Homo sapiens: one gene and its partners. The protein of the gene in region 5 purifies or fractionates together with the protein of the main gene of each other region. This does not show direct contact. Each region holds a gene or a part of one and is shown on either strand. Other genes may lie near its edges.

Region 1 (3,500 bases), on a different chromosome or scaffold from region 5:
CCCTCCCTGGGCCTCTGCCTCAGCACCCTCCCCCGCACACCGGAGCACCGGGCAGGGTCCCTCGGGAGCAGGGCCACCGCACCCACCTGTCCAGGTTGTCGATGAAGTCACGCACGTCGTCCGGCAGGATGACTCGGTGCTCGCCCATGTCCCGGTAGTTTCCCAGCACGCACACTGGCACGTGGGTGGGCACTTTTGGAAGCTCCCGGAGAATGTAATTGAAGGTCCTCGGAGAACAGGTGAGGACCTGGCTTAGTTTCAGCCCTGCGACGCCCTGTCCCTCCCTGGAAAGGTGCTGTGCGCCCAGGCCCGAGGATGGTGGCTGCTTCTCATTTCCAACATCCAACCCAGCAGAAGCATGCCTCGTGCATGCAGAGCTAGAGGGAAGTGCCTCGAGGGCCTTCGCACCCCTCAGCCTGCAGCCCCCGCCCGTCCCTCTCCCTGACGGCAGGTACTTGACCGCACCCCACACTGGAACGCCCCTGCCTGTCCCTGCCTTCCCTCAGAGCACCCCATGTCCGCATCCCTACAAAACCACCTCTGGCTTCATCTGTGTCCACCCTCATTCCGCACTGTCCTCTGTGCCCCTTGGTGTCGACCCTGTGGCTGGTCCTCCAGGCTCCCTGCCCACCGGGGCAGCCGAGGACACCCTGGGGTGCCTCTGCGGCTGCCGGTGAAGCGGGCTGTTTGGAGAGCCTTGTCTTAAGCAGACATCTCCTGGCACGGACGGCAAGTCTCCAGAGTCTGCCTGGCGTGGAACTGCCAGTTTCCCAGCTGCGTGGTTTTCCAAATGGCTTGTGAAGAAATAACCAGCGCTTCAAGTGACAAAACTTCCCCACGACTGAAAGCCAACATAAGGGAGTAAAAAATGCAACATCCTGTTTCTAACTTCATTTTCTTTCATTTACACGCAGTCATTTAAACGGGCCCCTCACCAAGGCCGGCCCAGGGGCACCTCTGGCCTCCTAAGCAGGTGGCCTTCTGGTGTCTCCTGCCTCTCGTGGCTGTGAAGGGCCTGCGTGGTGCTTGAAGCCGCTGTCTGAGCCAGTGTTTTCCATCCTTCCTGCTGGGCACCAGGGGCTCCAGACAGAGCATTGCTACCATAGGCATCGCCTGCCCAGGCTGGTGCTGCCAACAGGGTCTCCGGGCCCACAGGTAAGCGCCTTTGCCGCGTCTTCTCAGGCTGGCTCAAGTCTCGCTGTCACTCCCGCCCACTCCTCGCACGGCAGCCCAGGCGGCTGCAGCTCCCTCCAGGCCGTTCCTGTGGCAGCAGTGGGAGGTGCCGTGGAGGCCACACTGTGTCCACACTCAACTTCGCTTGGGAAAAGCCACTTCCCACCCACCAGGCTGGCCTGCTGCCTAGACAGGAGAGGCCGGAGGGAGAGGAGCACCACTGCTCGCCCAGGTGAGGCCAGCGTGTGCGCCCGAGCTGAACTCGTGCCCTGGGGTGGGGCCGCCAGCCCCGTGTGTGGTTCTCCTGCCATCCGTGTGCCACACCCCCACCGAGGGCTCTCCTGAGGGTGCCTGCGGTCAGTCCTTGGTGGTGGTGCTGAAGGCTGGGAGGGCAGGCATGGTTCCCAGCATTGGCAAAGGTTGGCAGAGGCCCAGAGCATGGCTGGTCAGGTGCTTCAAGCCGCCCTCAGGCCTGGGCTGCTGATGCGTGCTGAGTGTGCGGCCCCGTGACAGGCGGTACGCTTAACCCTGGTGTGGGGGTCTTCCCAAGTAAGAGAAGCTGCTGACTAGGCCCCCAGGCCAGACCCACTGCTGGGAAGAGCAGATGCCTGGACGTGTCGGGCATGCTGCTCCTGGTGCTCCGGGCACTGGCTGTGGCTAGGAGGGGCCCTGCACCAGGACACTGGTCTTCACGCGGCCCTCGTTCTTCTAGGAGCCTTGTGCCAAGTGTGCGTCCGCAGCACCCCCCCGCTGGGGCTCCGGTGCGTCCTGGGGGACACTGCACTCCTGAGGAGCTGAGTGGATCCCATGCGACTCCACAGTGGACTCTGGGGGCTTGCGCCTGGTCCCCCAGAGATCGTCCTGTGTGCCACTGCCCTTAGCTGATTTCGCTGTCATCTTCTTGCTAGAATGAATCTTGGCTGTGGGTCCTCCTAGGTCATGAAGACGGAGGTCGCGGGGAGCCCCCAGCACAAGCAGCCACTTGCTTCCGCCAAGTCTCAGATGGGTTTTCAGGAAGAACAGTGGGGCTATGGAAGGTGCGTGCCTTGCCCCAGATGCCTTTTGCAGCCGGCCCACGCCATCCCGCCCCATAGGCACAGGCATAGTCGTTGCCCAGCCCGACATCCAGGCCAGTGCCCCTTGTGGCTGAGCTGCCACAGCTGCCCAGCAAGAGTCCCTCGGTCCTGCAGAACGATGCTGCTCTAACCATTATCTGCTGCACAAAGAGGGCGCCCAAGGGGCTAGGGGGGTGAGAGTCACAGGCAGCTGCCCCCGCCAGCTCCCTCTTACCACTGCTTGGTAATGTCGAACATCATGACCACCCCGTTGCAGTTCTTGTACACGTCCAGGAACTCAGCATCCAGGGCCATTTCAGACTCCGCCTGGGGACAGGAGGGAACAGGTGTGAGACTGGCCCAGGCTGGGCCCCACCCGTGTGGCCCACAGTTTTAGAAAAGGCTGGATAGTCTTCTAATCTGAAAAGATAACAGCCATTTCCATTTGGAAACGATATGCTGAAGAGATGGGATAGCTAAACATAGGTTTGCCCCAAAGGGTCTGACGGTCAACACCAGCCTCGCTGATGGCTCCCTGAACAAGCCTCCTACCCAGGACCTCCCACTGATCACAGCAGTGTCCGCCCCAGGCCTCACGGATAACCAAACCACCACTCGAAAATAGAAGTGGGTGCTGGACTACCAGCTGCCCTCAGCTAGATGTGCGTTCCGGAAGGTTCCAGTGCCCACAAACAGGGTTAGCTGCAGTGCTGTGGGCAGAGTCACTCCACCCCATGCTCTAAAGGGAGTGGGAGGCACCGCACGGAGAGTGCGAGGCCCTGGGTGTGTCGGGCTCAGGTTGGGTTGGCCCCAGGTGGCTCCGGTGAGCGAAACTCACGCCCATGGCGCTGCGAGATGTGTCCTGTGCTTTGAAGGGCCGAGCCCACCGAGACTGGGATAAAAGTTTGGCGAGTTCACTTAAATACCTCTCAGGTCACTCAAATGCAAATAGGGGTCAGTCCAACGTGATGTCTGTCGAGTGCAGGTGAGCCGGCCACCCCCAGATACAGCCATGGCAGTGTGGGGTTTTCAGAGCAGTTGGGAAGGCCAGCGGCCCCCGTGGCCACAGCATAACTGGGGTGGTTGGGGTCAAAAGCGTGTGAAGCGCTGGGCACCGGCTCACGCACCCCGGGGCCCTGAGCCACTGCTACCCACTGTGTACCTGGCACTCACCTCCTGGGGGTCGTTCTCCATCTTTAAGCCGTCGCCTCGCTTTTTGCATTTTCCTTATTTAAAAACAAACAAAAATTACGAGGTGGAACCCCTGGGCCT
Region 2 (4,102 bases), on a different chromosome or scaffold from region 5:
GATGGCAGTACTGGACTAGGTATACCTAGAGGAAGAAACAGAGCCAAATGATGATTCAGGGTTGGGGTGGAGAATTGTTCTGTTGATTTCATATTAATGTGCTTAATTTTCCATGCTTGTTTCCTCACCCCTGCCTTTAGGGACCACTCCTGTATACTATGTCAAGGAGCTGAGAGATCAGCTCATTGATTTGAAAGCACTATGTTGATAGCTTAATTTTTGTGATACTTTAAGCCTAAGTTCCATCCTCTATGTTGTAAACCTTAGTTGAGAAATGTGGAGGAATCAACATTCAATCAGCAACATTTGTGATGCTCCAAGCATGTTCAGAATTTTTTCTTTTTCTTGCTACTTTTCTTTTCTTTCTTATTTCCAACTTCCCCCTCTTAACATCGTGATGATACAAAGAAATGGACAATAACTGTTTCCACTGGCTTTACAATATAAATGAACCTGTCTTAAAAACTCAAATACAGATCTTTATGCAAATTTTCCTCTCATCCCAAATTATTAAAATTGGATGTCAGATTTACTAAAATTGAATGTAGACAGATACACCTGTTCTTTCCGGACATAAGTCCAGATCTAATCATTACAAATAAACACCTAGTTAACTGACAGGTATTAGGTAAGTAAAGGAAAAAATAACTACAATGAAAGCTGAATATCCAACATATAATTTTGCCCTAAGTTAAAATTAAAATCTCCTTTATTAGTTTTGAAATTGTTTGAAAGTCAGAAGTAGTATCTAAACCAAAAACAACTTTAAAAGATTCTTGGAGAAAAGGAACTTCTTAATTTTTAATAAAATTTTATAGTGATTGTATGTGTTGATCTGTATTTCTCTTTGTTTTTAGTTGGATTTCAACCTAACATATTTTAAAATCTGATTCTTATTTTCTTAGGTTTATAATCTCGTTCTTTCTTCTCCTCTTTTTAAAAATACCAACCAGTCTTCTAAATATTTTTCTGAAATGGATAGCCAGTATAAAGTTTCAAGCCAAAATGAACTTAAAAAATTTTCCCTACTGACAAATTAATTATGAGAAAATAAAATAAGTCCTGCTGTCCTGATGGCAAGGACAGGGTGAGTGGCCAGAATAAAAGAAGGTGACCTCTGTGGAGCAGAAGTGTCTTGGTTGCCAATGACAATGACAGCAATGATGGCGACAACAGCAATAGCCACCACCTTCTGTAGGCTTTCCAGAGTCTTGATCTTTTGTCATCAGCATTAACTTTCCCTCAACTTAAAATGTTAGCTATGGAATTTCCACATACTCTATTTTCAAAATCAGTCTTATCTGTAAAAGTGTCCTGATGACACTGTGAAACTTAGACATATTTTCAGGGGATATATATTGGAACATTTAATGTCAGGTTTTTTTTCTTTGAAGAAGAAATGTTATTTATATTACATTATATTTTGTTTCTGTGTTTGTTTTTACACCAGGCAACTTGAATTAACAACACACTACCACGTGGAGGTTACTATAATGCAGTGTATCCAGGAAACACAGAAAGATGATTGCTACCCTTCCCATCTCCTGTCTTATTATAGATTAATTGTTTCCCAACTTGGGGATCAAGCCCCAATAGAGCCTCAGGTTGTTGCAGGGGGTTCTTGAATCCACCCACACAGTGATCATTGCCTCAAGTTTAAGGAAGGAACATTTCCACATGAACAGTGTTTTCTGTTCTTTTCTAAATGAATATAGCTGCTATGTTAAATATAAACTCATTTAAAATAATTCTTAAGTGTAGAATAGGTTTTCATGATTATATATATCCTTAACATCATACTAAAAGTACATGTCTCCACATGAACAATTAGCAGGATTCCATTAGTTTTGATTCTCCATTAGCAGGGTTCCATTAAATGTTTTGATTCTGTGGAGGAGTCCTTGAAAACCACTGACGTCAATCACAGTTGGCAAGAGCTGGAAGGACCTTAGCAGTCAATAGAATCCAGCCTCCTCGTTTACTGATGAGGAAACTAAGGCCTAGAAAGGTTCAGGGTCATTCAGTGTCATAGTGGTGGGTGATAAGTGGCGGTACTGGGACATGAGTCCTGTTCCGCTAAATGCAGGTTTGTTAATTCCACTTGCAACACACTGTATTTCAAGATACATAAAGGCTAACTGGCTTGACCCAGGCAAATAGAATCAGTGAAAAGCCTGGATTGGCACCTAGAAATATCGACTTCCAGATAAACACACCTTGATTTTATCATGCGGTCTCTCTGATATATCTTTATGGGTTAAGTTGGAGTAGTAGTTCACATTAAATATTACATATGATGGCTGCATTCTTTCTGTAGTTCTAACAACATGTGAAAGAGAAGTTTCATTAAGTTTTGTTTGATTAAGTGGCCTGAAAAGTCAAAATTTTATGAGAAGGCATTTTTAAAGAACAGCTGCCCCGATATCCTATTCCCAATACTAAACTAGGAAATAAAATGGTAGCTCATTAAGATGTAGCAATATAGAGATTCCTTTGTTCTTTAGAGTGTAATAATAAATTATTCTTACCTCTTGTATTATCAGATGAAGAAGGTGGCAGGCTCAAAGCAGACAACTACTGTTGAAAGAAAAAAGAGAATGTGGGATGCTTTTTTTTCCCCATTTAATCACAAAATACTAGTAACTATATTGTCTACAATGTCGTCCTTAAGAATGTTGGAAAGAATAATTAAAATTTGGGAAGCAGTAGACATCCCTTAAATGAAAAATCATCATCATCAGGAATGTAAAAGTAAGTGTTCTTCCACATATACATACCTTCAAGAATTTTGAGGAAGGATGGGAAAGAGGCATCTCAGCTCCACTTTTATAGAGACCATTCTGCAAACACAGCAGCCACCTCAGCTGTCCTAGCTGGGAACCTACTTGGCAAAACCGTTTTTGGCAATCTCTTTGCACAATATTCACTGACTGTGGCTGTGAATGGATATAATTAGAAATATTTCTTGACACCCATAAATAATTTAACAGAGGATGATCTAGGGTTCTTTATAGGCATTTGATAGGGGATGGGGATTCAGGGCTTCTAACACTGTTTCTCCAGTTTGGCTGTTGCATCATTCATCACAGAATTCAAAGCCAGATTCCCACTTACTCCTCTGCCTATAAAATTGGTCCAACAGAATGAGTCTGATGTGAGGAATTTAGGATTAATTAATTTGTTGGTTCTTAGAGCCATTAAGGAGTCTGGAATGAATTTTAGACCTGACACTATGATTGGAAGCAGTGAGCGATGGATTTTAAGACAACATTCCTAGCCACAGTCTGGATTTTAGAAAGACTGGCGATAGATTCTTTTAAAGTCTGAAAGTCTAAATATGAAGGTGAAAGTGAATTCTCAGATTAGGCAGTGGTGATGGACCACTGGGGGAGGCATAAGGGATTTAGAATAGATATAAACACTTCTGTTCTTTTTCTGGAGGACTTTCCATGGATATCTCCAGCTTGTATGTTTTCACTGAAGGAACAACAGGATGCTGTGTGATGTTCCATGCATGTTTCCTCTGCATAATGGAAGGAGACACAAACATGCATTCCTAGTTCATGGGCAGACTCTCATGACTAGCTATAGCTCTAATGAGGTGGGAACCACATATTTTTATTTAAGGTGGGAGGAAAGTCATGGTATCCACGATATTCTCCCTGTGGATTGAAAAGATGGATGGGCCATCACATATGCCCATAATACTCATAAATTGGCTTTTGATGGTTTTGCTACATACACAGCTGTTACTGAATATGGCAGGAAATATACCTACTCTAAGTGTGACCCTAACTGAGCTCTGGTGAGATATTTTCAACTATCATTAGCTGGCTTAAATTACCAATTAATGAGATCACTGTTTTTATAATTCTGTTGACTTAGAATTTATCTTTGACACATTGATAGATTGAATCTTTTATACTTTAAAAATTTATTTTGATAAAATTCTATGAAATAGGTCATCAGGCGTTAAAAACAAAATCTCCATGAAAATAACTCACCGAAGTCTAGCGACTTACCCAAAGTGCTAGGCTCTAGGCCAGAAGGAAACTTGTTCTATTTTTTCTCTCAGATTTTCACAACTCATTTATTTTTACTT
Region 3 (2,738 bases), on a different chromosome or scaffold from region 5:
CCTGAGGAGCAAAGATGAGATGGGTGAACGGGAGGGATCTGTTCAGATCTGTGAATATCTCCCACCTTTAATTGCTTTCATTACCCACCACAATTATTACCCACTCACCATTCGCTGAAGCAGTTGCTGCAGTTTCTCATGCTCCTCTCCTGAAAGGTGCTTCTTCAACTGTTTTTTCACAAGCTCCACATTGGAAAATGAGTATCATGGTTAGCATTCTGCAAATGTTAGCTGAAATTTTATGTAAAGCATTATCCTAAGAAGTTCACACACATACACACACACACATTTTTTTTTGAGATGCAGTCTTGCTCTGTCACAGGCTTGAGTGCAGTGGTGTGATCTTGGCTCACTGCAACCTCCGCCTCCTGGGTTCAAGCAATTCCCCTGCCTCAGCCTCCCAAGTAGCTGGGACTACAGGCACGTGCCACCACGCCCGGCTAATTTTTTTTTTTATTTTAGTAGAGACTAAATTTCACCATGTTGGCCAGGATGATCTTGATCTCCTCCTTTTGTATTTTAGTAGAGACTAATTTCACCATGTTGGCCAGGATGGTCCCAATCTCCTGACCTCGTGATCCACCTGCCTCGGCCTCCCAAAGTGGTGGGATAACAGGCATGAGCCACCGCACCCGGCCAGAAGTTCACATATATTAACTTGATAACACCAAGACAGTAACTGTTTGTTTGGAGACAGTCTTGCCCTGCTGCCCAGGTTGGAGTGCAGTGACACGATCTTGTCTCACTGCAACCTTTGTCTCCAGGGCACCAGCAATTCCCATGCCTCAGCCTCTTGAGTAGCTGGGACTATAGGCATGCAACACCACACTTGGCTAATTTTTCTATTTTTAGTAGAGATGGGGTTTCACCATGTTGGCCAGGCTGGTCTTGGAACTGCTGGCCTCAAATGATGTGCTCACCTCAGTCTCCCCAAGTGCTGGGATTACTTACAGGCGTGAGCCACCACACCCGGCCTCCAAGACAGTAATTATTATTTTATTTTTTTATGATTAGAAAACTAAAGCATAGAGAGATTAAGTAACATGCCAATAATCACACAGCTAGTAAACTGATGAGCCAGGATTTGAATATGAACTGAATTGGAGAGAGTTAAATCTGCCCACCACTATACTTCCCACTCCCCCTGCCCAACTCTCTAACCTGTGCCCTCATTTTCCACCCCACAAAATTCCCCATAAACCAGTCTCAAGCTGTATACCTCTTTCTCTTTCGCTCGGATGTCATTCAAGAATTGGTATGTTTTGTCAAACACCTCAGGATTATATTCCCCTGACAGATCATCAAAGCGAGGGTCCCGGGCTACCTTTGGAGAGAAGAGAGAGAATATAAAACACAACTGTTCAATCTCCTTTCACTGAGAAAAAGTGCTTCCTGTCTCTTCCTCATCTTTCTTTTTTTTTGCTTTTTGAGACACAGTCTCGCTCTGTCGCCCAGGCTGGAGTGCAGTGGTGCAATCTCGGCTCACTGCAAGCTGTGCCTCCCAAGTTCACACCATTCTCCTGCCTCAGCCTCCTGAGTAGCTAGGACTACAGGCACCCGCCACCACGCCCGGCTATTTTTTTTTGTATTTTTAGTAGAGACGGGGTTTCACTGTGTTAGCTAGGATGGTCTCAATCTCCTGACCTCGTGATTCGCCCACCTTGGCCTTCCAAAGTGCTGGGATTACAGACATGAGCCACTGCGCCCGGCCTCTATTTTTTTTTTTTTTTTTTTTTTTGAGACAGAGTCTTACTCTGTCCCACAGGCTGTAGGGCAGTGGCATGATCCTGGCTCACTGCAACCTTCACCTCCCAGGTTCAAGCGATTCTTGTGCCTCAGTTTTCCAAGCAGCTGGGACTACAGGCACACACCACCATGCCCAGCTAATTTTTGTATTTTTAGTAGAGACAGGGTTTCACCATGTTGGCCATGCTGGTCTTGGAACTCCTGATCTCAGGTGATCGCCCACCTCGGGCTCCCAAAGTGCTGGGATTACAGGCGTGAGCCACAGTGCCTGGCCTTCTTCCTTACCTTTTTACTAATGGGAACAACCTGACGTAAAAATGGTACTCGGATCTTGGCTGACATTTCCAGAGGCCTATGGAGAAATTAAAAGCCAAGTCAAGAGGACTCCAGTGTTGGTCAAAGGCTTCCCACCTGTCACCCAAGACAACATACCTATTCAAGGTCCCAGTTATCTTCCAACTTCTAGGGCAAGCCTTGCTTACCTGTGCTTATCTGCAACACATGCATTTTGGATAGGTGGTCTAGAAGCTTGTTTCTTAGGACTATTTCCAGCTACCAATTGTTTGTACGTCTTAGTCCCCACTTGGCTCTGCAATTCCAACAGCTCCTCAAATGACATGTTAGATGTGCCTGTGGAAGTGGGGAGGGACATACAACTCAGCTCAGCATGTCCCACTGCAGAAAAGACATCTTCCCATCCCCATTCCTTAGCTAGCTAATCCTAATACCCCATCAGACCAATCATTATTAGAAGTCCTAGGCAGCAGAGGCTGTGATAGTGTTAAACTCTCCAACTATTTCAGCAACCTGGGGCCTCATCTTGCTAAGGAAGGTGTATATGTAAGGTCAAAGGTGCACCAAACCATAGTCCCTTCTTTTTCTCTTTTACTCATTCTTTTACTCTCTCTTTTACTCATTCACAGGTTTCCCCAGAAGGGCATCTGCCTCCCTTGCTCAGTTACCATTGCCAGTGTCCTGGTCCACATGCTCAG
Region 4 (3,500 bases), on a different chromosome or scaffold from region 5:
TCAGTAAAGGGACAGCATATAAGAAGTGTTTTTAACAATAAATTGCATTCCTTATTGCTAACACTGGCCAATTAAGGAAAAAATCTAATTATACTAGAAACAAAACCACATAAAGTTCTTGGAAATTACCTTAATAAACACAAATGACCTATGTGAAGTAAACTGTAACACTTGATAAATTTGAAAAACTTACATAAATTTTGAGGATACCATATTTCAAGCCAACCTAATAATTAAGAATCCAGGCTTTGCATTATTGCAGACCTGGGTTCAAATCTTGATTCTCGTAAGTGTTATGTGATCCTGGACACTTAATTAATCTCTCAAGTATGTTTACATCTTTCCAATATATCCAAATGGATATAACAATAGTATTGGTGATTGTAAGGATTAAGTATAAAGGAGCTTGAACTAAGTATTTAGTGCAGTGCCTGAAATAGCCCTGCCCTCAATCATTATTAGAGATTGAGTCTCCCTTATCCAAAATGCTTGGGATCAGAAGTGTTTAGAATTTCAGATTTTGAAATAAAATTGCATTATATATACTTACTGGATGAGCATCGCAATTCCAAAATCTGAAATGCGCCAATGAGCGTTTCCTTTGAACCTCACGTTGACAGTCAAAAAGTTTGGAATTTTGGATTTGGGATTTGGGATGCTCAACCTGTATTATTCTGTTTAAATATTTAAAGATGTTATGTCTACTGTTCTAGGGTAATTTTGATCAAAATCCCAGTTCAAGTCAAAGTTAAGAAAAAGGATACCAATAATCATCTAAAAGAATAAACAAATTAAGAGTAGCTAATAAACTATTTTTTTTTTTTTGAGATGGAGTCTCGCTCTGTCGCCCAGGCTGGAGTGCAGTGGCGCAATCTCGGCTCACTGCAAGCTCCGCCTCCCGGGTTCACGCCATTCTCCTGCCTCAGCCTCCTGAGTAGCTGGGACTACAGGCGCCCACCACCACGCCCGGCTAATTTTTTGTATTTTTAGTAGAGACGGGTTTTCACTGTGTTAGCCAGGATGGTCTCGATCTCCTGACCTCATGATCCGCCCGCCTCGGCCTCCCAAAGTGCTGGGATTACAGGTGTGAGCCACCGCGCCTGGCCTAGACTAGCTAATAAACTTTTGAGAAATCATGCTAATATAAAAACTCACCCTGTCGCTTCTCGGCCTTTTGGCTAAGATCAAGTGTAAAAACTCACCCTACAAGTTACAATATCTAAACATTTCATGATGCTATGGGGGTTGACAGGTTTGGGTAAAAATGGGACAAATTGGTAGAACAGAATAGATAGAAAGAGTTCATATGATAACTTAGATCAAAATAGGCTGCTTGAATATTTGGACAAATGAACAGGTCATTGGATAGAGAACTTGGTTCAGATCTTCACCTCCTAATAGCTCCAGCGAAATTCTAGATGAAGCAAAGGAAAAAAAAATTAAAAGTCAAGCCAAAGAAACAATTTAAAAACCCTGTGTTTTAGGCAATAGTGAGAATTTCTAGACTTAGAAAAGAGGAAAAAAAAGAATCAAAAGATGTGACTACATATATATTATAAACTTACATATTAAACCTATTGTGTATATACTATTCAAGTTAGTAAGAAAAACTTGGATCATCTTGTTGATAAATTGCATATTTCAGACAGTTTAAAAAAGCATGTGTTCATTAACAAATGTATATTAAGCCTAGTAGTATCAAAACAATGTCATTAATACAATTATTTCTTGACTCTTAAAGTAGGCAAGATTTTAGAAGATACCACACCTGGTGAGAGTGAATTCTTTTTCTTATATCGAGACTATACCTAATCTGTATAAGGTTGTCGTCAGTTCTGTTCTATTTCTTTAAAAGAAAGCACTGGATAAATGGTATGACAGAGATAAGTTGGTTATTACAAAATTGATCTTCATTATATGTTTATTTTTCTGTATTTCATGTAAACTAATTCAGTCATTTTTCATGTGTGTGTTTTTATTCACATTTCCTTGAGCTTAGCATCTTGTTTTGCTTTTAATTTTTCGTTTGGATCTCGGAACCATCTTGTCCCAGGTGGTATGTGGAGGAGATACTCTTATTTTTGTTTCCAAGCCTCGTATCTTGTTAGTCTCTAGCCAAAGTGATCTATTTTTAAATAAAATTTCTCAAGATGCTCTAGCTTCCTATAGTGGATTTGGAAGTGAGTCACCCTTACTGTTTTCATTGAGTCAAGTTGTGACTTTTAGAGTTCCTGACTTCGACAGGTCTAGATATTTGTGTAAAGGAATGTACAAATTACATTGATCCTATTTTTTTCTGTTTAGATATATCCTTCAGAATTTGGAAAGGAGAGGATGAAGGAAGAGCAAGTTCAAGGACCAGTAGAGCTATTAAGTATTCCTGAAGATGCCCCAGAAAAAGACTGGTATTAAATCACTATAGAACATAAAACTAAACCTCATAAATTCATGTCATTAGTTCAGAATTCTGGTCACCTTAATAGTTAAAACTAAAGTTTATACTTGTGCCATTCGTGGTTAAAACAGGTTGCAAAACAGATTTAAAGTCTGTTAAAAGTGGTACATTATTCCAAGAAGATTTTTGTTCGTGTATATTTCTATTTCTGTATTCATGAAAGTAATTATTGCAGTTTTTGAAAAACATTTCATGATTAAACTGATTTGGAGTTCTTTTGAATTCTTTCAGCCTCGTTGCTCTGAATTAGTACGTTTTGCTTTTTTTTTTGAGACATCATTGAAGCTCTGTTTGCCTTCAAATTATATAATTTTTTCTTATTTGAGAATCAAATAGAAAAGTGAAAGAATGATAAAACTTTTTTTTTTATCATCATGGTGCAATATAGAAAATAATTTAAGATAGTTTTTAAGCCACTAGGTGGAGCTATATTTGCACTTAATAAAAATGAGGGTTAAATAGATTAGTGACAGGAGAGAGCAGATGAAGACCTTCAAAGAAAGAGTTGTATCAGTGCTTTGTGTGGAACCTTAAAAAAAAAAAAAAAAAAAAGAATGTGTTGTAGTTAAGCAAAATCAAACTTATAGACTCTTAAGCAAACATTTTGCAAGATCAGGAATGTCTTTTAGCTAATGGTTTTCTAGCATATTTTATAATAGAATTATCTTTATTGGTTTTACTTGAGAAGGCAGTGTGTAATAGCAAAGTAACTATTCTGTGAGTTAAATTATAGATAAACACACGAATTCCCACACACTCCTTTCCTAGATACCAAATTCCAATCCAAATATCTGTACCTTGTGAGAATAATAAGTTGAGCTTAAGTATTTAATGTTTATAAAGGCAAAGTCATGAAGGAAAGATGGTTTGGTATGAAGGCCAGCTTGTAATATGTTTTTCTTGAAAGAATTACATTTATTTTTTAAAGGGAAATTTTTGTGTTTCTGTATAAGTATGCTTAATAAGTTTTTCCCACTTTAGGACGTCTAGAGAAAAATTGAGAGATTATCAATTCAAACGACTGAAGTACTATTATGCAGTAGTA
Region 5 (2,374 bases):
AGGTGTGAGCCACCACGCCTGGCCCAAGACTGTTTCTTCACCTGGAACCTCTGCCCCACTGTTAGAAGACTGTAAAATCCTTAAAAGGGTAATTTAGAACCTAGTATGTATTAAGTACATAATATCATTTAATCATTACAGTAACTATGTGGCATAGGTGTTATTTTATTTATTTATTTATTTATTTTGAGACAGAGTTTTGCTCTTGTTGCCCAGGCTAGAGTGCAATGGTGTGATCTCGGCTCACTGCAACCTCCACTTCCCGGGTTCAAGTGATTCTCCTGCCTCAGCCTCTTGAGTAGCTGGGATTACAGGCATGCGCCACCGCGCCTGGCCCATAGGCATTAATTTTTACATGATACAGGTAAGGAAACTAAAAGTTGTGAGATGCCCAAGGTCACTTAATGGCAGACCTGGGACTCAAATCCAGCTTTTTTTTTTTTTTTTAGACAGAGTCTCACTCTGTCACCCAGGCTGGAGTGCAGTGAGGCAATCTTGGCTCACTGCAATCTCTGCCTCCAGGGTTCAAGTGATCCTCCTGCCTCAGCCTCCTGAGTCGCTGGGACTACAGGCATGTGCCACCACACCTGGCTAATTTTTGTATTTTTAGTAGAGACGAGGTTTCACCGTGTTGGCCACGCTGGTGTCGAACTCCTGACCTCAGGTGATCCGCCTGACTCAGCATCCCAAAGTGCTGGGATTACAGGTATGAGCCACCGCGCCTGGCCCCAAATCCAATTTCTCTAAAGTTAATATCCCTTCCCTCATACTAGTGATTCTCAGCCCTGGCTAGACTGGAATCTTCATTGAAGTTTTAATTTTTTTTTTTGAGAAATAGTCTCGCTCAGTCGCCCAGGCCAGAGTGCAATGGCCCGATCTTGGCTCACTGCAACCTCTGCCTCCCAGGTTCAAGCAATTCTCATGCCTCATCCTCCTGAGTAGCTGGGATTACAGGCGCCCACCACCACGCCCAGGTAATTTTTTTTTTTTTTTTGGAGACAGAGTCTCACTGTGTCAGCCAGGCTGGAGTGCAGTGGCGCAATCTGGGTTCATTACAGCCTCTGTCTCCTGGGCTCAAGCAATTCTCCTGCCTCAGACTCCTGAGTAGCTGGGATTATTGGTGCATGCCACCACGCCCAGCTAATTTTCATATTTTTAGTAGAGACAGAGGTTTCACCATGTTGGCCAGGCTGGTCTTGAACTCCTGACCTCATGTAATCCACCTGTCTCAGTCTCCCAAAGTGCTGGGATTACAGGCGTAAGCCACCATGCCTGGCTGCTAATTTTTAAATTTTTAGTAGAGGTGGGGTTTTGCCATGTTGGCCAGGCTGGTCTCGAACTCCAGACCTCAAGTGATCAGCCTGCCTCAGCCTCCCAAAGTGCTGGGATTACAGGAGTGAGCCACCATGCCAGGCCAGTTTTAAGTTTTTTAATATATAGAAAGAATATAAATATACATCATGCATGTACATATATCTACTGTTGGCATTTTTAAAAAATCAAAAGTACATTTTCCACATGTTGAAAAAATTGAATCTACACAGAAATACATTAAGTGAGGCCGGCCGCGGTGACTCATGCCTGTAATCCCAGCACTTTGGGAGGCCCAGGCGGGCAGATCACGAGGTCAGGAGATCGAGACCATCCTCACTAACACGGTGAAACCCCGTCTCTACTAAAAATATAAAAAAATTAGCTGGGCGCAGTGGCGGGTGCCTGTAGTCCCAGCTACTCGGGAGGCTGAGGCAGAAGAATGGCGTGAACCCAGGAGACAGAGCTTGCAGTGAGCCAAGATGGTGCCACTGCACTCCAGCCTGGGCGACAGAGCAAGACTCCGTCCCAAGGAAAAAAAAAATACATTAAGTGAAAAGTAAAAACTTTCTGGGTGCAATGGCTCATGCCTGTAATCCCAGCACTTCGGGAGGCTGAGGCGGGCAGATCACTTGAGGCCAGGAGTTCAAGACCAGTCTGGCCAACATGGTGAAACCCCATCTCTACTAAAAATACAAAAATTAGCCGAGCGTGGTGCCACACACCTGTAATCCCAGCTCCCCAGGAGGCTGGGGCACGAGAATCACTTGAACCCAGGAGGTGGAGGCTGCAGTGAGCCGAGATTGCACCACTGCACTCTAGCCTGGGTGGTGGAGTAAGACTCTGTCTTAGAGAGACTCTGCCTCAAAAAAAAAAAAAAGTTGTTATCTCTGACTGGGCAAATATATATATATATATATATATATATATATATATATATATATATATATATATATATATATATACTTTGTTGGGAATGACTGTAGTTTTTACTTTTTTTTTTTTCTGAGTCAGAGTCCTGCTCTGTTGCCCAGGCTGGAGTGCAGTGGTGCGATCTCTGGTT
Region 6 (3,500 bases), about 120 Mb from region 5:
CAGTTATACTGCTTTTGCCTTTCTTTAGCTATTCGCTGGAGAAGAAACACACACATTCTCAGTGAACAATGAACAGGACAAAAATGAGTAAGAAACTGTTTCTTAATCCATTTAAGCCAACTGCATAGTTTCATCAACTCCCTTCTTTCACCAGAATCAACATAACGTGGTAACAATAACGTTGCCCATTTTAGGAACATCACATTCTGGAGCTGAAAGGAACCCTGGGCCAGACGCAGTGGCTCACGCCAGTAATCCCAGCACTTTGGGAGGCTGAGGAGGGAGGGTCACTTGAGCCCAGGAGTTCCAGACCAACGTAGGCAACATAATGAGACTCTGTCTCAAAAAAAAAAAATTAAAAATTAAAAAAGGAACCCTGTAGACTATCTTATCGAAACCCGTCATTTACAAACGCAGAAAAATGAGGCCCAGAGAAGAAGTGGTCCAAGGACACACAGCTCACCTGGAGCAGAGTCAGGACCGTCCCCCTCTCACAAATCCCAGGAATCTTTCCACTACTACACTAAGCTGCTTCAACCTTTGTGTGAGTGCCACAGTCACCTGAGATGATGGCAGGAATGAATCAGTGTTGGAAACCCTATACAAAGTGAATGGAGAGCAACAGAAGAGTCGGCAACAGAAGGGTCCCCAGGCAGTGTGCTGGTGCCTGAAAATCTTACCACTCAGAAAGCAGAAGAATTTTTTCAGCAGAAGCTCACCTGAGAATTCTCACTGCTAATGACTCCTCAAAGATCAGTGGGGTCCTTACATTTTGGGGAATCATCAACCTCAGAGAAACTGATGAAAGCTTTGGGATCTTTCTTCTTTTTTTTTTTTTTCTGAGGCGGAGTCTTGCTCTGTCGCCCAGGCTGGAGTGCAGTGGCACTATCTCGGCTCGCTACAACCTCCGCCTCCTGGGTTCAAGCAATTCTGCTGCCTCAGCCTCCCTAGTAGCTGGGATTACAGGTGCCCGCCACCACGCCTGGCTAATTTTTGTATTTTTAGTAGAGACAGGGTTTCACTACATTGGCCAGGCTAGTCTCGAACTCCTGACCTCAAGTGATCCACCTGCCTTGGCCTCCCAAATTGCTGGGACTACAGGCATGAGCCACCACGCCCAGCATGGGATGTTTCTTGAGATAAATGTACATACACATTTGTAAAAGGTTGTGCAAGCACATATACCTATCTGCACAAAATACCAGTGAGAAAGGGGGGTTTTCTCAGACCTCCTAAAGCTCACTCATGGGTTGTCTACCCACTCGAAGTTACAGACAAAATATCCTTGCAATCCACCCACCAGCAGTCTCTTAATAAAAATGATTTTGCAGTAAACAAAATAGAAAGAAACATAATTACTAGACAAAAATGGCAAAAATCTAAACCTCCCTAACTTCTCAAAAGCTATGCTGGTGAACTATTCTACATGGGAATTTGGAATACTAATCTCTTTAGGGACTACCACAATTCTTGAGAAGCGTCAGTGACACGGCTAATTGAAAGTACACCTAATTGCCGGGCGCGGTAGCTCACGCCTGTAATCCCTGCACTTTGGGAGGCTGAGGTGGGTGGATCACAAGGTCAGGAGTTCAAGACCAGCCTAGCCAAAATGGTGAAACCCTGTCTCTACTAAATATACAAAAAATTAGCCAGGCGTGGTGGCGGGCACCTGTAATCCCAGCTACTCGGGAGGCTGAGGCAAGAGAATTGCTTGAACCCAGGAGGCAGAGGTTGCAGTGAGCCGATATCACGCCACCGCACTCCAGCCTGGGTGACAGAGTGAGACTCCGTCTCAAAAAAAAAAAAAAGTACACCTAATTGACAAACAACAGGGTTATCACAAGAACACTCATGAGCAAGCTCTTTGGCTGGAAGTGTTATCTACAGAAGGAAATATTACTGGGCCTTAGACTTCAACAATTCACAGATTCTAGCACAGTCTCACAGCAGTGGTTTCAGACAGCTTTTGTTTTCGCTTTATTGCACAGACTGTCAGATTTATGGGATTACCCAATATAGTCAAACTAATTAGGGGTATTTATATTACTAAAGCAAGTTTAGCTGCCTCTGAGCTAGAGAAAACTGCTGTGAAATTAAACATTGGAAGCAAAACTGATGCAGTGTAAATGATTCAAATCAAAACAGAACAGCTGTCTGCTTGAAACACATTGACAGCATTTTTTTTTAATGAATCAGTCAGAAGAGTTCAACTCCAGAAGGCTTTCAGGAAAAGCATGTCTTCTGCACAACCCAGTTACAGTGACGGAAAGCACCATAAGGAAAAGCCAAAACAAAATTTTTGTTACAATACACAATATGAAAGACCTTTTGGGCAGGCATGGTGGCTCACGCCTGTAATCCCAACACTTCAGGAGGCCAAGGCGGGAGTAAACACTTGAGCTCAGGAGTTTAAGACCAGCCTGGGCAACTTAGCGAGACCCCGTTTCTACAAAAAAAATTTAAAATTAGCTAGGCATGGTGGCACACACCTGTGGTCCCAGCTACCCAGGAGGCTGAGGCAGGAGGATCGCTTAAGCCCAGAAGGTGGAGACTGCAGTGAGCCATAATCACACCATTGCACTCCAGCCTGGGTGACAGTGAGACCCTGTCTCAAGAAAAATAAAAACACAGAAAGACCTTTTGATGTGCGTATTCACTGCTAAAGGTTCAATATTAAAGTATTGCAAATCCTTTAATCTTCAGCAATCCCTTTCTCTGCATTTTCAAAACACTGGCATCTGTTACAAGTATTAAAAGCACAAAGCGCAGGGTCAGAATTGGGATTCAAACCCAGGTCTAAAGGCCAGAACCTAAGCTTCTGACCACTATACCTCCTCCGATCATAGAAATTAGGAAGCCCTTCTCCACTTCCATCCCATCATCAAATCATCCTACAAATCCACTTTTCTAAGGGAACTCATGAGTTTTCCATAAATAAATAATTATTTTAGGCCAGGCACAGTGGCTCACGCTTGTAATCCCGACACTTTGGGAGGCCAAGGCAGGCAGATCAACTGAGGTCAGGAGTTCAAGACCAGCCTGGCCAACATGGCGAAACCCCATCTCTATGAAAAATACAGAAATAAGCTGGGTGTGGTGTTGCACCCCTATAGTCCCAGTTACTGGGGAGGCTGAGGCATGAGAATTGCTTGAACCCAGGAGGCGGAGGTTGCAGTGAGCCGAGATCGTGCCACTGCACTCCAGCCTGGGAGACAGTGAGACTCTGACTAAAAAATAAAATAAAATAAATTTTAAAAATTATTTTAAATGCAGTAGCAAAAAAAAAAAAACAAAAAAAAAACACCTAGATTCCCCTAAGCTCACATGTGAAGAACAACAGAGAAAATTACCTTAAGTCCAGTCTGATTGGTAACTCCTTTCACTTTTTCTTTCTGCAAGGTCTCTATCCTGGGCCTATTAAAGACTCTGTCGACTAGCTCCGGGGCTGTTTGCAGGTGAGTTGCGACATCAAACTGTTCAACTAAAATTCAAGACAATCC
Region 7 (3,500 bases), on a different chromosome or scaffold from region 5:
ATGGATGTAGCACCTTGTAAGTGCCATAGCACTAAGTAGTACAATGTAAAATAAGTTCACAACTCCTGTTTGCTGTGCTGTCTGCATGTTGTCCTGATAGGCTGATCATAGGCCCTGCCGTGCCTTGTCTTAAGGTTTTGATCTCTGGCTGTGCCTTCTTACAGTCAATATAAGATCCAAGTATTTGAAATAATCAAGGGTCAAAAAGCCCTTGGGTGCTAGAAAATACAGAAATACAAATTAATGGCCAGGCCTGGTGGCTCGTGGCTGTAAACCTAGCACTTTTGGAGGCCAAGGCGGGAGGATTACTTGAGGCCAAGGGTTCGAGACGAGCTTGGACAATATAGTGAGACCCCCATCTCCATAGGAAAATTAAAATTAAAGATGGGCATGGTGGTGTGCACCCTGTAGTCCCAGCTAGGCAGGAGGCTGAAGCAGGAGAATTGCTTGAGCCCCAGGAGTTCAAAGTTGCAGTGAGTTACGGTAGCAACACTGTACTCCAACCTGGGCAACAGTGTGATCATGTCTCCAAAAAAAAAAATTATTTTTTAAAAAAAGGAATTGGCCAGGTGTGGTGGCTCACACCTGTAATCCCAGCACTTTGGGAGGCCTAGGCGGGCGGATCATGAAGTCAAGAGATCAAGACCATCCTGGCCAACATGGTGAAACCCCGTCTCCACTAAAAATACAAAAATTAGCTGGGCGTGCTGGTGCATACCTGTAGTCCCAGCTACTTGGGAGGCCGAGGCAGGAGAATCGCTTGAATCCGGGGGGCGGAGGTTGCAGTGAGCCGAGATCGCGCCACTGCATTCCAGCCTGGCAACAGAGCGAGACTCTGTCTCAAAAAACAAAACAACAACAACAAAAGTATTAAATCATTTCCTCCATACCCTTCCCTGAGACCTGAGTAGCTTCTCACTACAAAATAGATATAAACTCTTTTCATATGCTGCTGCACTACTCATCCTTTTATCTTCTCAGACATCTTATTAATTTGCTTCTGACATTAAAAGCACACCAATATAAGTTGGTATGAGACCAAGACTGAGGGTATTGTGACTTCTCCTTTTTTTTTTTTTTGAGATGGGGTTTCACTCTTGTTGCCCAAGCTGGAGTGCAATGGCGCAATCTCAGCTCACTGCAACCTCTGCCTCCCGGGTTCAAGTGATTCTCCTGCCCCAGCCTCCTGAGTAGCTGGGATTATAGGTGTGGGGTACCATGCCTGACTAATTTTTTGTATTTTTAGTAGAAACGGGGTTGCACCATGTTAGCCAGGCTGGTCTCGAACTCCTGACCTCAGGTGATCCGCCTGCCTCAGCCTCCCAAAGTGCTGAGATTATAGGTATGAGCCACTGCGCCCGGCCAAGTGACTTTTCATATGCTATTCTTTTAGCACTATCCTGAGGAGCGACATGTGGTTGAACGCCATGGACGGGACACAAGCGGACCAAGGAAAGAGTGGCATGGTCCACCCTCTCAAGGGCCTAGCTATCATGATACGAGGCGAATGGGTGACGGCCGGGCAGGAGCAGGCATGATAACCCAACATTCAAGGTAAATAACTAACCAGTTTTTCTGCCAGCACACAACCAACACTTTATCCTTTCCATAAAAGTCATTATAGTTTCTGAGAGACTGAATTGCAACTACTGAAAACCCTAGATCTGCCTGAACATTTCCCTGTATCAACCCGTAGTCTCCAAAAGAGTGTTTGCAGAACAGCTGATATTAATGTGTTAGTTTGTATTCTTCCTTTTAAATGAATTCAGTGACGTTCTGGCAAGTTGATATAGATATGGGTATGTACGTATGGCAGGATCCAGTAAACAATGAATTCTTTTGTTTTGTTTTGTTTTTTGTTTTTTGAGATGGAGTCTCACTCTGTCGCCCATGCTGGACTGCAGTGGCGAGGTCTTGGCTCACTGCAACCTCCGCCTCCTGGGTTCAAGCAATTCTCTCATCTCAGCCTCCCAAGTAGCTGGGATTACAGGCATGTGCCACCATGCCCAGCTAATTTTTATATTTTTAGTAGAGACAGGGTTTCACCATGTTGCCCAGGCAGGTCTCGAACTCCTGACCTCAGGGGATCCGCCTGCCTTGGCCTCCCAAAGTGCTGAGATTACAGGCGGGAGCCACTGCACTCAGTCTAGATAATGAATCTTAACCTCACATTGGAACCATCATCTTGTTCTCTACCTAGCATTCCTCAAATTCTTAGGAAGAAAATACTGAAAGTGTGTTCTGTTTCCTCCCTTTTAAAATAACTCTTGGGAAGGCTTTTAGACATTTAACACAAAATCTCTTCATACGTTAAGAGGCGAGCTTTACTTTCTCTTCACACTGAGGTCGGATGTGGCCCTTCAGCCAGCAGGTCTTCAGCTTCCCCATCTCTTTCATGTCCTCCTTTCTTTCCCATTCCTCTTTCTTAGGAGAGTTATTGGCTTGACTCAGTGACCCAGGTCACTACTATTCCATGGTCACTTCTACCATCAAACTTCAGTAAGTGTGCTACTTCTGCCTGCACAAGCTCAACATTCATTGTATCTGGTTTGTAAAGGTCACCGATGACTTTTCTCTTGATAAATATAGATTCTTTTATTTTCATGGTTGTCAGACTCCTTGGTGGTTAAACACTGTTTCACACGGTCACTTATCTTTATTTTGAGGGAGTCTGTTTTCTAGGGCACCATCATTTTCTTTCTGCCTTTGTGACTGCCTTTGCAGGCTCCTTCCCGTGGCTAAGCTTTAGACACTGCTGTTTCCTTTCAGCTTCATGTTGCCACTGCCATGTAAGTGCTTTGCTGTTTCCATGAATTCAAGGTCACAGTCAAACTCATTCCTCTCCTTTTTCAAACCTTTGTGTCCCTTTTGTTGCCTCCAGTTTCTTTCAATTTGATAGTGCCACCATCCATTTCATTCACCCTGACTGGAAATACGGGGCTTGTCCTTACCTTTCTTCATTCCTAGTATAAATTTCTAAGTGTGGTTTTTTTTTTTTGAGACAGAGTCTTGCTCTGTCCAGGCTGGAGTGTAGTGGTGCAGTCTCGGCTCGCTGCAACCTCTGCCTCCTGGGTTCAAGTGAATAGCTGGGAATACAGGCGTGCACCACCACGCCCAGCTAATTTTTGTATTTTTAGCAAATGGGGTTTCACCATGTTGGCCAGGCTGGTCTTGAACTCCTGACCTTGTGATCTGCCCACCTCAGCCTTCTAAAGTGCTAGGATTACAGGCATGAGCCACTGCGCCCGGCCGTGTGGCTCTATTTTTTTTTAAATGTTTCTCAGGCTGGGCACAGTGGCTCATGCCTGTAATCCCAGTACTTTGGGAGGCCAAGGTAGGTAGATCACTTGAACTGAGGAGTTTGAGACCAGCCTGGGCAACATGGTAAAACCCTGTCTCTACAAAAAGAAAGTTTATCATAGCTATCCCTTATTCCTCATTTTAGCTTCTATCTGATCTTCCCAATTATTGTGTTCCATTACCCCATTTGTAAATTGAAC

Evidence for each region.
Region 1: the proteins of CFAP141 (region 5) and RABL6 purify together in Homo sapiens (affinity purification with mass spectrometry; one large-scale study listed by BioGRID and IntAct). This does not show direct contact.
Region 2: the proteins of CFAP141 (region 5) and MYH4 purify together in Homo sapiens (affinity purification with mass spectrometry; one large-scale study listed by BioGRID and IntAct). This does not show direct contact.
Region 3: the proteins of CFAP141 (region 5) and RRP36 purify together in Homo sapiens (affinity purification with mass spectrometry; one large-scale study listed by BioGRID and IntAct). This does not show direct contact.
Region 4: the proteins of CFAP141 (region 5) and ESF1 purify together in Homo sapiens (affinity purification with mass spectrometry; one large-scale study listed by BioGRID and IntAct). This does not show direct contact.
Region 6: the proteins of CFAP141 (region 5) and UTP11 purify together in Homo sapiens (affinity purification with mass spectrometry; one large-scale study listed by BioGRID and IntAct). This does not show direct contact.
Region 7: the proteins of CFAP141 (region 5) and SLTM purify together in Homo sapiens (affinity purification with mass spectrometry; one large-scale study listed by BioGRID and IntAct). This does not show direct contact.

The regions. Positions count from the first base shown.
Region 1 is NC_000009.12:136,828,448-136,831,947, reverse strand, and holds part of RABL6 (rab-like protein 6), read right to left. Parts: intron 3,455-3,500; coding exon 3,402-3,454; intron 2,556-3,401; coding exon 2,464-2,555; intron 992-2,463; exon of another isoform or gene 925-991; intron 228-924; coding exon 87-227; intron 1-86. UniProt on the Homo sapiens protein: May enhance cellular proliferation. May reduce growth inhibitory activity of CDKN2A.
Region 2 is NC_000017.11:10,466,760-10,470,861, forward strand, and holds the start of MYH4 (myosin-4), read right to left. Parts: upstream 2,801-4,102; 5' UTR 2,778-2,800; intron 2,578-2,777; 5' UTR 2,529-2,577; intron 185-2,528; exon of another isoform or gene 26-184; 5' UTR 1-25. UniProt on the Homo sapiens protein: Muscle contraction.
Region 3 is NC_000006.12:43,024,623-43,027,360, reverse strand, and holds part of RRP36 (ribosomal RNA processing protein 36 homolog), read right to left. Parts: intron 2,377-2,738; coding exon 2,229-2,376; intron 2,099-2,228; coding exon 2,032-2,098; intron 1,325-2,031; coding exon 1,220-1,324; intron 232-1,219; exon of another isoform or gene 184-231; coding exon 109-183; intron 2-108; coding exon 1-1. UniProt on the Homo sapiens protein: Involved in the early processing steps of the pre-rRNA in the maturation pathway leading to the 18S rRNA.
Region 4 is NC_000020.11:13,771,420-13,774,919, reverse strand, and holds part of ESF1 (ESF1 homolog), read left to right. Parts: intron 1-2,304; coding exon 2,305-2,405; intron 2,406-3,436; coding exon 3,437-3,500. UniProt on the Homo sapiens protein: May constitute a novel regulatory system for basal transcription. Negatively regulates ABT1.
Region 5 is NC_000001.11:154,200,960-154,203,333, forward strand, and holds part of CFAP141 (cilia- and flagella-associated protein 141), read right to left. Parts: intron 1-2,374. UniProt on the Homo sapiens protein: Microtubule inner protein (MIP) part of the dynein-decorated doublet microtubules (DMTs) in cilia axoneme, which is required for motile cilia beating.
Region 6 is NC_000001.11:38,019,234-38,022,733, reverse strand, and holds part of UTP11 (probable U3 small nucleolar RNA-associated protein 11), read right to left. Parts: intron 3,482-3,500; coding exon 3,351-3,481; intron 36-3,350; coding exon 1-35. UniProt on the Homo sapiens protein: Part of the small subunit (SSU) processome, first precursor of the small eukaryotic ribosomal subunit.
Region 7 is NC_000015.10:58,881,680-58,885,179, reverse strand, and holds part of SLTM (SAFB-like transcription modulator), read left to right. Parts: intron 1-1,393; coding exon 1,394-1,554; intron 1,555-3,500. UniProt on the Homo sapiens protein: When overexpressed, acts as a general inhibitor of transcription that eventually leads to apoptosis.